Regions from separate parts of the Homo sapiens genome. Here regions 1 and 3 are each reported to be linked to region 2. Evidence: microRNA targets listed by miRTarBase, many of them from high-throughput screens and not tested one by one. Region 2 holds a microRNA gene; each other region holds the end of a gene's coding sequence.

What was found. Region 2 holds the annotated microRNA hsa-miR-3713 (GGUAUCCGUUUGGGGAUGGU, at 1,192-1,211, shown strand). A microRNA usually pairs through its seed, bases 2 to 8, with sites in the 3' UTR of a target mRNA and lowers its output. Matches are read on the target gene's strand: a 7mer-m8 pairs with bases 2 to 8, a 7mer-A1 pairs with bases 2 to 7 and ends in A, and an 8mer does both.
Region 1: the mRNA of NARS1 is a reported target of hsa-miR-3713. Seed matches in the 3' UTR shown: 7mer-A1 at 2,644-2,650.
Region 3: the mRNA of ZDHHC5 is a reported target of hsa-miR-3713. Seed matches in the 3' UTR shown: 7mer-A1 at 886-892.

The regions. Positions count from the first base shown.
Region 1 is chr18:57,598,742-57,601,970 of GRCh38, forward strand. It overlaps NARS1 (asparaginyl-tRNA synthetase 1), which reads right to left. Exons shown (of 14, transcript NM_004539.4): 14 at 1,915-3,042. The coding sequence ends at 2,911. Among named protein-coding and RNA genes, the nearest start is that of FECH, 14 kb to the left of the region's middle.
Region 2 is chr15:76,585,456-76,588,712 of GRCh38, forward strand. It overlaps MIR3713 (microRNA 3713), which reads left to right and starts at 1,192; the gene lies at 1,192-1,236. The region is part of intron 22 of SCAPER (S-phase cyclin A associated protein in the ER); the gene reads right to left.
Region 3 is chr11:57,699,600-57,702,856 of GRCh38, forward strand. ZDHHC5 (zDHHC palmitoyltransferase 5) reads left to right here. Exons shown (of 12, transcript NM_015457.3): 12 at 267-1,583. The coding sequence ends at 432. Among named protein-coding and RNA genes, the nearest start is that of MED19, 11 kb to the right of the region's middle.

The DNA of each region.
Region 1 (3,229 bases), not on the chromosome of region 2:
TAAAACTGAAAAATCAATAAAGTAATATAAGCATGTTATTTAGCAATTTGGAGGTAAATACTGAAAAAAAGCTAAAACTTTTGAACACCTTCATTTCTGTAAGTTGGGGTACTAAGACAAGTTTTATCCAATACAAACTTGATTTTGACTGTAGAAACTAGTCTTTGTCCCACAAACAAAGTTTATCAATATCTCTTCAAAGATGTTCTTCACCTGATCATCACATTGGTTATGATCCATAAGGCAGAAGGAAACTTTTCAGCATAAGAAACTGAGTCATTAACCAGCAATTTCCAAATACTAGAAATTGCAGTATTTGTATATCATGACATCCCTTTTTTCCCAGAAGGGCTGGATGAAATATACTTATTCTATGGCAATTCAAAATTCAAGCTTTGAAGTTTCTCAGCCCTCAGTGTTCCCATTTCAACTACAGAGATTAATACAAAATCAATAGAGAACCTACAGCAATAATAAGAGAGGCTTAAGGTTGAGTTTAGAAGTAGGAGGAAGCCACCTGGCGACTGTCAACCTCACTGTGCAACAACCTCCCCTGGGGAGCTTTTAAAAAATACCCTGGTCCCATTTCTGAAATTCAGATTCAACTGGCCTGGGGTAAGGCCCAAACACCATTATTTTTAAGGTCCCCAAATGATCCCACTGTGCTGCCAAGATTGCTTTTCACAGAGTTGAACTACTCTACGTATTAAGGACAACATTTTTAGGAACCATTACGAGGCAGCAAGGTGGCAGGGGCTGAACGGCAAGGTGGGAAACTGGGTCGCTTGAAATGGCTGAAGGACATTTAAGAGGGCAAGTTGATATTTAAGCAATTGAATTAGCCTCCTGTTTGTCTCCAAAACTGAGCAGGTCACACAAGTGCCAAAGGTGGAGGGGTTTTTGGTATGAAAAGCAGAGAGTTTCAGGGAGGAGAAAGTCACGTGATGGAAGTCCTGAGAGGGCAGGGGTGTTTGTGAGCTAGCCATGGGAATGCGGGATGGCATCTGTGACACCTGAATTAGGGTAGTAACTACACAGCGAAGGGAGTGAAGTCCACACGCGTGAGGTTTGCTGCTCACCGTGCTCAGTCTCTCGGCCTGAGGTCACCACCTTAACTCCCTTATCCATATCCTGGCTCTCCTTTAATATTTTAAAACTTTGACCTGTTTACACCATTAAAATTAAGGCTAACTGAGCCTAACCTCTTCACTTTAATTCTGATAAAATGAATTGCTTAGTTGAAGTCATCTACAGCTCATTCACACTCTTCCAAGTATTTTTTATTTAAAGATGCAGGCTGAATAGATTATAAATGCATCATTTCTTCCTTTGTTTTTTTTTTTTTTTTTGAGACAGTCTCGCTCTATAGCCCAGGCTGGAGTGCAATGGTGCAATCTTGGCTCACTGCAACCTCTGCCTCCGGGGTTCAAGCAATTCTCTTGCCTCAGCCTCCTGGGTAGCTGGGATTACAGGCACCTGCCATCATGCCTGGCTAACTTTTTTATTTTTGTAGAGATGGGGTTTTACCATGTTGCTCAGGCTGGTCTTGAACTCCTGACTTCAGATGATCTGCCCGCCTTGGTCTCCCAAAGTGGAGGGATTACAGGTGTGAGCCACTGCACCCAGCCTAAATGCCTCATTTTGACCTGTCATTTCACTTAATTGCAAAACAGGATAAAATCTAATGTGTCCAACAGTAACACAAAAAAGATTACAAAAAAGATTTAACCATGACCCACATATCTAACGTTAAAAAATCATTCGTTCTCATTACCATATAACGTTAGCAATATCTACTAAATTTAGTAGTACTTAATTTCACATATATACATCATAAAAAAGATAAAATAATTGCAAAAGCATGAACGAATGTGACAAAGAGATGTTTAGCTTTAAGAAAATTAAGCCAGCAAAGAGTTTTTACGGGTGTTCATTTATTGACTGCTGGGAATACAGCCTATTGAGAATACATGACATGCATTTGGTGGAGAAATCAACTAAATCTGAAATGAAGCCATTCAGTAAGCCTGCTGTGAGTTAATAAGGTAGCACAGATTAGATCTAAGGACATGGTGGGGGCAACTCAAACAGCCACTCACAATTGTTATTAAGATTCCAGCTACAATTTCTTTTGGAACTTATTTATTCTTAATTACTTAGGAATTACCAGGAAAGAGGGAAAATCAATCTGCCTCTTTACCTTAAATTAATGCTAAGAGGGATACTGTGAATCACTAAAAAACTCTCCCCAAAATTATGTTCTTACTTCAAATCCTTTAAGGCAATTCTATTTTTACAAATTCTTCAATTTCTATGCCTCAGGATTATTAGCAGCTAAGCAGAGTTAGAAAAGATTAATAACTGATACAAAAGGCTATTCATTTGATTCTAGTGTTTACTGCTGAATTATACTGTGTTCTAATATGAGCAGATTTTTATACGATATTGCCAATTTCTTCCCCCAAGATTTTTGTTTTAATTCATTGATGCAATAAAATAAATCAAAGAATTCAAGGTACACTTAAAAGGACAGAAAGATAAGTTACTGGAGTATCTTACACCATAATCTAAAATTGTTGAATTATACATACATATAACTTGAATAAAATGAATAACTTGGATAAAGTGAGTAAAATGCTGAAATGTATCCCTAACTACAGTTTCATGCCAGGTATTTTCCCCGAACTTTGTTTCCCGAACTTAAGAAAAAAATGGATATTTTTTCTTAAGATGACAACCTTAATATCACTTGATGTTCAGGTGATTTGAGATAGTTTTTATGGTAGTAGAAAGAAAAACAGAAAGAGAAACCCCAATGAAACAAAAAAAGGAAGATTCTGGCTTTTTGTTTTCTTTTTTAAAGAGCCTGTTCCTTTCATAATCTTTCCTCCACGCTTCTGGAGAAAATGGTTATGGCGTGCAACGCTGGACAAATCGAGGGTATAAGCACACGTCTCGGATGTGATACCTATTCAGAATCCACGTTAAGAATCGTTCCAAGCCCAAGCCATATCCTCCATGGGGACATGTACCGTATTTTCTCTGTTTAAAAAAAGAAAGAAAGAAAGAGGAGTAAATACTTAAGTTAAAACTTTCATCTAAGACAGTTAAAATTTTCCACCATGAAAGGAGTTAGCTCACTGTGGTTAAGAATTCAACTATGGCCAGATTCAGTGGCTCGTGCCTGTAATCCCAGCACTTAATCTCTATGCCTTCATGAACCATGCAT
Region 2 (3,257 bases):
TGATAGGTAAGTAGCCACTTCAGCTTTTGGCTAATGTCTGCATACCATGTAACTAAATATGCAGCCATAGCAACAGATATATATGAATCTAGCACTATTCTTAACAAGAATGCTGACATTTGACTGAAAATCAGCAGTACTGAGGGAGGCACAAGGACCATTTTAATTCACAGAATACAAGAGGCTTGTATTTCACCCTGAGGTAAATCAATTCTGAACCTATCCTTCAAGAAAGAATGCCAAATCAAGGGGATGCTTTGGTAATTTGAGCTACACCCCTGTCTCATTCCCTGCCTTCACAGAAGTACAACAAATAAAATAGCCCCTGTAAAGAAAAAAGCACTAGATTTTAATTCATACTATAAATAATTATAGAATGTCAGAGAAGTCAAGCTCTGAGAGCTATATTTTCCTCACAGTGCAAAAACAGGAGCTGCTTAGAGAGTGTAGTTTTTAACAACAGAAAGTTTTATTTGGATTCCTTCTGGCAGATAATTTTTCTAGCATGAAAAGAAGAAGTGAAGGCATTGTATCTCCCAACCTAGGAATATGAGAAGTATCTGTCAGGTAAATGGTTTTGTGAATAATGCTGTAAGATCAATATTTTCTTCTTAAAACTGGAACAAATTTCAGCAACTCTAAGCTCAAGTCTGTCATTGGTAAATATGAAATGTAAAAGTATCTCTCCCAGAATTCCTAACTTTTATCATAGTTAAGTTTGCATGGGGTGGTGGGGTGGTCCACTAGGATCATTTAGAAGATTTGTAAAAGTGTAAAAAAAGATACTTGGTCCATTTAGGAACTAAGATTGTTCTTTAGCATAATGGATAGGAAGACATAAATTAATTAACCTTTCATATCCTCTATTTGGAAGGTACATGGTCTAAATTTAGAGCTATTTTGAGACATTCATATCTGGAATTAATTAAATAAATTTAGGGCTTTATTTAGACATTCAGATCAGGAATTAGCCATTTCCCCAAGAAGCTCTTGTTTCTTTTACTGAGAAAAGATATTTCAAACCCCAAATCAGTGAGCACTAGAGATGCTCTTTGCTACTGAGTTGGGCATTCTTTTCATGCCTCTTCAATGAACAGAGCTAGAAAATAAATAAATGAATGTATATACATATGCATACATATATATGTGTGTATAAATGTGTGTGTGTATATTACATATACAGTTATCCTTGGTATCCGTTTGGGGATGGTTTCACTATCCCCAGATGGATACCAAAATCAGATGCTCAAGTCTACTAAATATCAGGGATATTGGTCTCTTCATCAGGGATATTTGTCTGTAGTTTTCTTTTTTTTTTATGTTCTTTCCTGGTTTTGGTATTAGGGTGATACTGGCTTCATAGAATGATTTAGGGAGGATTCCCTCTTTCTCTATCTCGTGGAATAGTGTCAGTAGAATTGGTACCAATTCTTCTTTGAATGCCTGATAGAATTCAGCTGTGAAACTGTCTGGTCCTGGATTTTTTTTTGTTGTTGTTGATAATTTTTAAATTATCATTAAATCTCACTGCTTGTTATTGGTCTGTTCAGGCTTCCTAATTCTTCCTGATTTAAGCTAGGAGGGTTGTATCTTTTCAGAAATTTATCCATCTCCTCTAGGTTTTCTAGTTTATGAACGTAAAGGTGTTCATAGTACCCTTGAATGATCTTTTGTATTTCTGTGGTGTCAGTTGTAATATCTCCCGTTTTATAATTGAGCTTATTTGGATCTTCCCAATCAATAGAATGGTCTGTTGATTTTATTTATCTTTTCAAAGAATCAGCTTTTTGTTTCATTTATCTGTTGTATTTATTTTTTGGTTTCTATTTCATTTAGTTCTGCTCTGATCTTGGTTATTTCTTTTCTTCTGCTGGGTTTGGGTTTGGTTTGTTCTTGTTTCTCTAGTTCATTGAGGTGTGATCTTAGATTGTCTATTTGTGCTCTTTCAGACTTTTTGATGAAGGCATTTAAGACTATGAACAACTTTCCTCTTTGCTGTATCCCAGAGATTTTGATAGGCTGTGTCACTGTTATTGTTCAGTTCAAAGAATATTTAAATTTCCATCTTGATTTCATTGTTGACCCAATGATCATTCAGGAGCAGGTTATTTAATTTCCATGTATTTGCATGGTTTTGAAAATTCCTTTTGGAGTTGATATCCAATTTTATTCCACTGTGGTCTGACAGAGTACATGATATAATTTCAGTTTTCTTAAATTTATTGAGACTTGTTTTGTGGCCTATCATATGGTCTACATTGGATAAATTTCCATACAACTGATTAATAGAATGTATATTCTGTGGCTGTTGGGTAGAAATATCTGTTAAGTCCCTTTGTTCTAGGATATAGTTTAAATACATGGTTTCCTTGTTGACTTTCTGTCTTGATGACCTGCCTAGTGCTGTCAGTGGAGTACTGAAGTCCCCCACTATTACTGTGCTACTGTCTTTCTCATTTCTTTTTCTTTTCTTTTTTTTTTTTTAAGACAGAGTCTTGCTCTGTCGCCCAGGCTGCAGTGCAGTGGCACAATCTCAGCTCACTGCAAGCTCTGCCTCCCAGGTTCACACCATTCTCCTGCCTCAGCCTCCCGAGTAGCTGGGACTACAAGCGCCCACCACCATGCCTGGCTAATTTTTTGTATTTTTTAGTAGAGACGGGGTTTCACCGTGTTAGCCAGAATGGTCTTGATCTCCTGACCTCGTGATCTGCCTGCCTCAGCCTCCCAAAGTGCTGGGATTACAGGCGTGAGCCACCGCGCCCGGCCCTGTCTCTCTTATTTCTTAGGTAGCAGTAGTTGTTTTATAAATTTGGGAGCTCCAGTGTTAGGTGCATATATGTTTAGGATTGTGATATTTTCCTGTTGTACAACATCTTTCATCATTATATAATGTCCCTCTTTGTCTTTTTCAATCGCTGTTGCTTTGAAGTTTGCTTTGTCTGATATAAGAATAGCTACTCCTATTCGCTTTTGGTTTCCATTTGCATGGAATGTCTTTTTCTACCCCTTTACCTTAAGTTTATGTGAGTCCTTATGAGTTAGGTGAGTCTCTTGAAGTCAGCAGACGCTTGGTTAGTGAATTCTTACCCATTCTGCAATTCTGTATCTTTTGAGTGGAGCATTTAGGCCATTTACATTCAACGTGAGTATTGAGATGTGAGGTACTATCCCATTTGTTGTGCTGTTGGTTGCCTGTATAACTTGTTTGTCTTTAAATTGTATTTTTGTTTTATAGGTCCTGTGAGATTTACGCTTTA
Region 3 (3,257 bases), not on the chromosome of region 2:
TTAATACTTTTTCCATAATGCTATCTTCCTAAAAGTATTTGCTTGGGAGTAAGTACATGTGATAGCTGTTACTAGAGAGTAGTAGTACATAGGAGAGATTGGGAATCAGGCTTATTTTAAGCAGGGCAATAAAGGGGAATGTTTGGGTAAGAAAGTATGGATATAGAAAAGAACATCATTTTTTTCTCTGAACCTTTGAAACTGTCTCCCTTTCCAATGTTTTCTGTCCCATTTCCTGACACCTACGTCTTGTCTCTTCTTTCCAGAGATGAAGTACAGCTGAAGACCACCTACAGCAAATCCAACGGGCAGCCCAAGAGCTTAGGCTCAGCCTCCCCTGGCCCAGGCCAGCCACCTCTCAGTAGCCCCACGAGGGGAGGAGTCAAGAAGGTGTCAGGGGTTGGTGGTACCACCTATGAGATTTCGGTGTGAGCCTTCGGCACCTCCCCTCCCCAACGCCTCTGCGCCTACACCAAAGGGCCCCAGGTGGCCACCTTCCTTCCCTCAAGGGGCTCCCCTCCCGTGCATGGACATTTTTTAAACCACCGATTCCAAGAGGATGAGGAGTGTTTTCTAAAATGCAGTAGGCTTGGGGAGTCGGAGAGTTGGGGCCCTGAGACTGGGGTAGCAACCCCCCCTTTTATCTTTTAAGACCTTCCCTTCCTTGATCCCTGGACCAGACTCAGTGGACATTTGTGCAATTGCTCGCCCTGGAGGGAACCAGATCATTTTTAAACCAGAAATAATTTTTTTTATTATTGTTACGGATTCTATTTTTTTCCTCTTCTGCGTTACCAGGTGTGTGTGTACATATAATATATATATATATATATTATAAATATCAAAGAAATTATATATCTATCCTGGGATGGGAAAATGAGGGAGGGATACATATACGGAGGGGGATCTTACTCTTCCCATTCCTCAGACCAGCAGGAAAAGAGGGGAGACGTCAGTCTTTTTCCTGTGGTTCCCTCTCATTTGTCCCAGTTACTAACTACGGAAATAGCATCCTCTGCTGGTGCTAAGTGTGATTAGGAAGAAGCCTGGGGAGAGGTGAGTCTGGAATTTTGGTCACAAGAGGGAAGGACTTGGAGAGGAGAATTAGTTTTCTAGGCTCATTGGCATTTAGTTTCCCTAGGAAAGGGGTCAAAACTTCAAGACACTGGTGGTGGTGGGAGATCAGGAAAATAACTTGGCCTAGCTCAAACAATATTGGATAATCCCCTCCTTGGGGGAGAGGGATTAGAGTGTGCTCCTACTGGCCCCTTGGAGCCTCCCCTAGCTTACACAGTTAACTTGATTTTAAAATCCAAGGCCAGGAGAGAAGAATCCAAAAAGCAATATTTTTCATCACATGCCAAAAACGGGGGATAGAGAGAAGGAGTGGCAGGCCTAGGCCCCTCCGATTGTCCCTTGGGGGTTACCCCTCAGCCCACCTCACTATGGTGCTGGGTAGAGGGGATACCTGGGTTCTAACCTCTAAATAGGGGAGATCCCAGCCTCCACAAAGAGGCCCTTTTATTTTTTATTCTGATTAGCCATTTTAAACCAACGAGGAATAAAAAGAAATCCTGATCTAACCAGCGCCCCCTGACTTGTGTTATTTTGTCTGGTTGAGACAGGGTGAACGATCTCTGGTGGGAAGTTATCAGTGACAACCTCATAAACTTCTCTGGTCCCAGCCCATCTTTAGGCAAGACTATAATGAAATTAGCCACTTAACAACTAAAAAAATAAAAAAGAGACCCAGTGCGGTGGCTTATACCTGTAATCCCAGCACTGAGGGAGGCTGAGGCAAGAGGATCACTTGAGCCCAGGAGTTCCAGACCAACCTGGGCAACATAGAGACTCCATTTCTAAAAACAACAGGTCCTGTTTTTATTTGGGTGATTTAATTCAAAAATTCCTGAAAAAAGGTCTCTTGAAATCACCAAAACTGCTTGTTATTTGAAAGCTTAGAGAACTCTTAAAAGTTGTTTCTTTCAAGAGACAGGGCCTCATTCTGGTTGCCCAGGCTGGAGGGCAGTGGCACAATCAGATCACTATATCCTCAAATTCCTGGGCTCAAGGGATCTTCCCACCTCAGCCTTCTGTGAAGCTAGGACTTACAGTTGCATGCCACCATGCTTAGCTAATTTTTTTTTTTTTGGTAGAGATAGACTCTCAACCAATTTTGCCCAGACTGATCTCGAACTTCTGGCCTTGAGCAATCCTGCCTTGGCCTCCCAAAGCATTGGGATTACAGGCATGAGCCACCATGCCCAGCTACAGTTGTTTTTTAATACAGGATTTAGTCTCTGGAAAGTAAAGCTAATTTTGGAAACAGCCAAAGGTGACATAGTAACAGGTATGAAAGCCTGTTGAAGGCAGGTTAACTAGATATCGGTGTCAGTTCAATTAGATATATTGCATTTTATTGGACAAAAGCTGTGCTCTAATTTTAAATAGGTATCCTTAGACACTAAATCTCAAGCAGTTGACCAGAGCCCTTTAATTACTCAAAATTTAAGAATATAAGCTCTTAGCCGGGCGTGGTGGCTCACGCCTGTAGTCCCAGCACTTTGGGAGGCCGAAGCGGGCTGATCACAATGTCAGGAGATCGAGACCATCCTGGCTAACACAGTGAAACCCCATCTCTACTAAAAATAACAAAAAACTAGCCTGGCGTGGTGCGGGCGCCTGTAGTCCCAGCTACTTGGGAGGCTGAGGCAGGAGAACGGCGTGAACCTGGGAGGCGGAGCTTGCAGTGAGCCGAGATCACGCCACTGCACTCCAGCCTGGGTGACAGAGCAAGACTCCGTCTCAGGAAAAAAAAAAAAAAAAAAAAAAAAAAAAATATATATATATATATATACTCTTATTTGGGTGCAGTAGCTCACACCTGTAATCCCAGCACCTTGGGAGGCTAAGGCAGGTGGATCACCTGAGGTCAGGAGTTCAAGACCAGCTTGGCCAAAATGGTGAAACCCCGTCTGTACTAAAAATGCAAAAATTAGCTGGGCGTTGGTTATGGGTGCCTGTAATCCTGGCTATTTGGGAAGCTGAGGTGGGAGAATCACCTGAACCCAGGAGGTGCAGGTTGCAGTGAGCTGAGATTGCACTACTACACTCCAACATGGGCGACAGAGCAAGACTCTTTCTCCAAAATTTAAAAAAAAAAAAAAAAAAAAAATATATATATATATATACAAAAATTAGCCAGGTGTGGTGACGCACACTTGTAGTCCCAGCTACTTGGGAGGCTGAGGTACAAG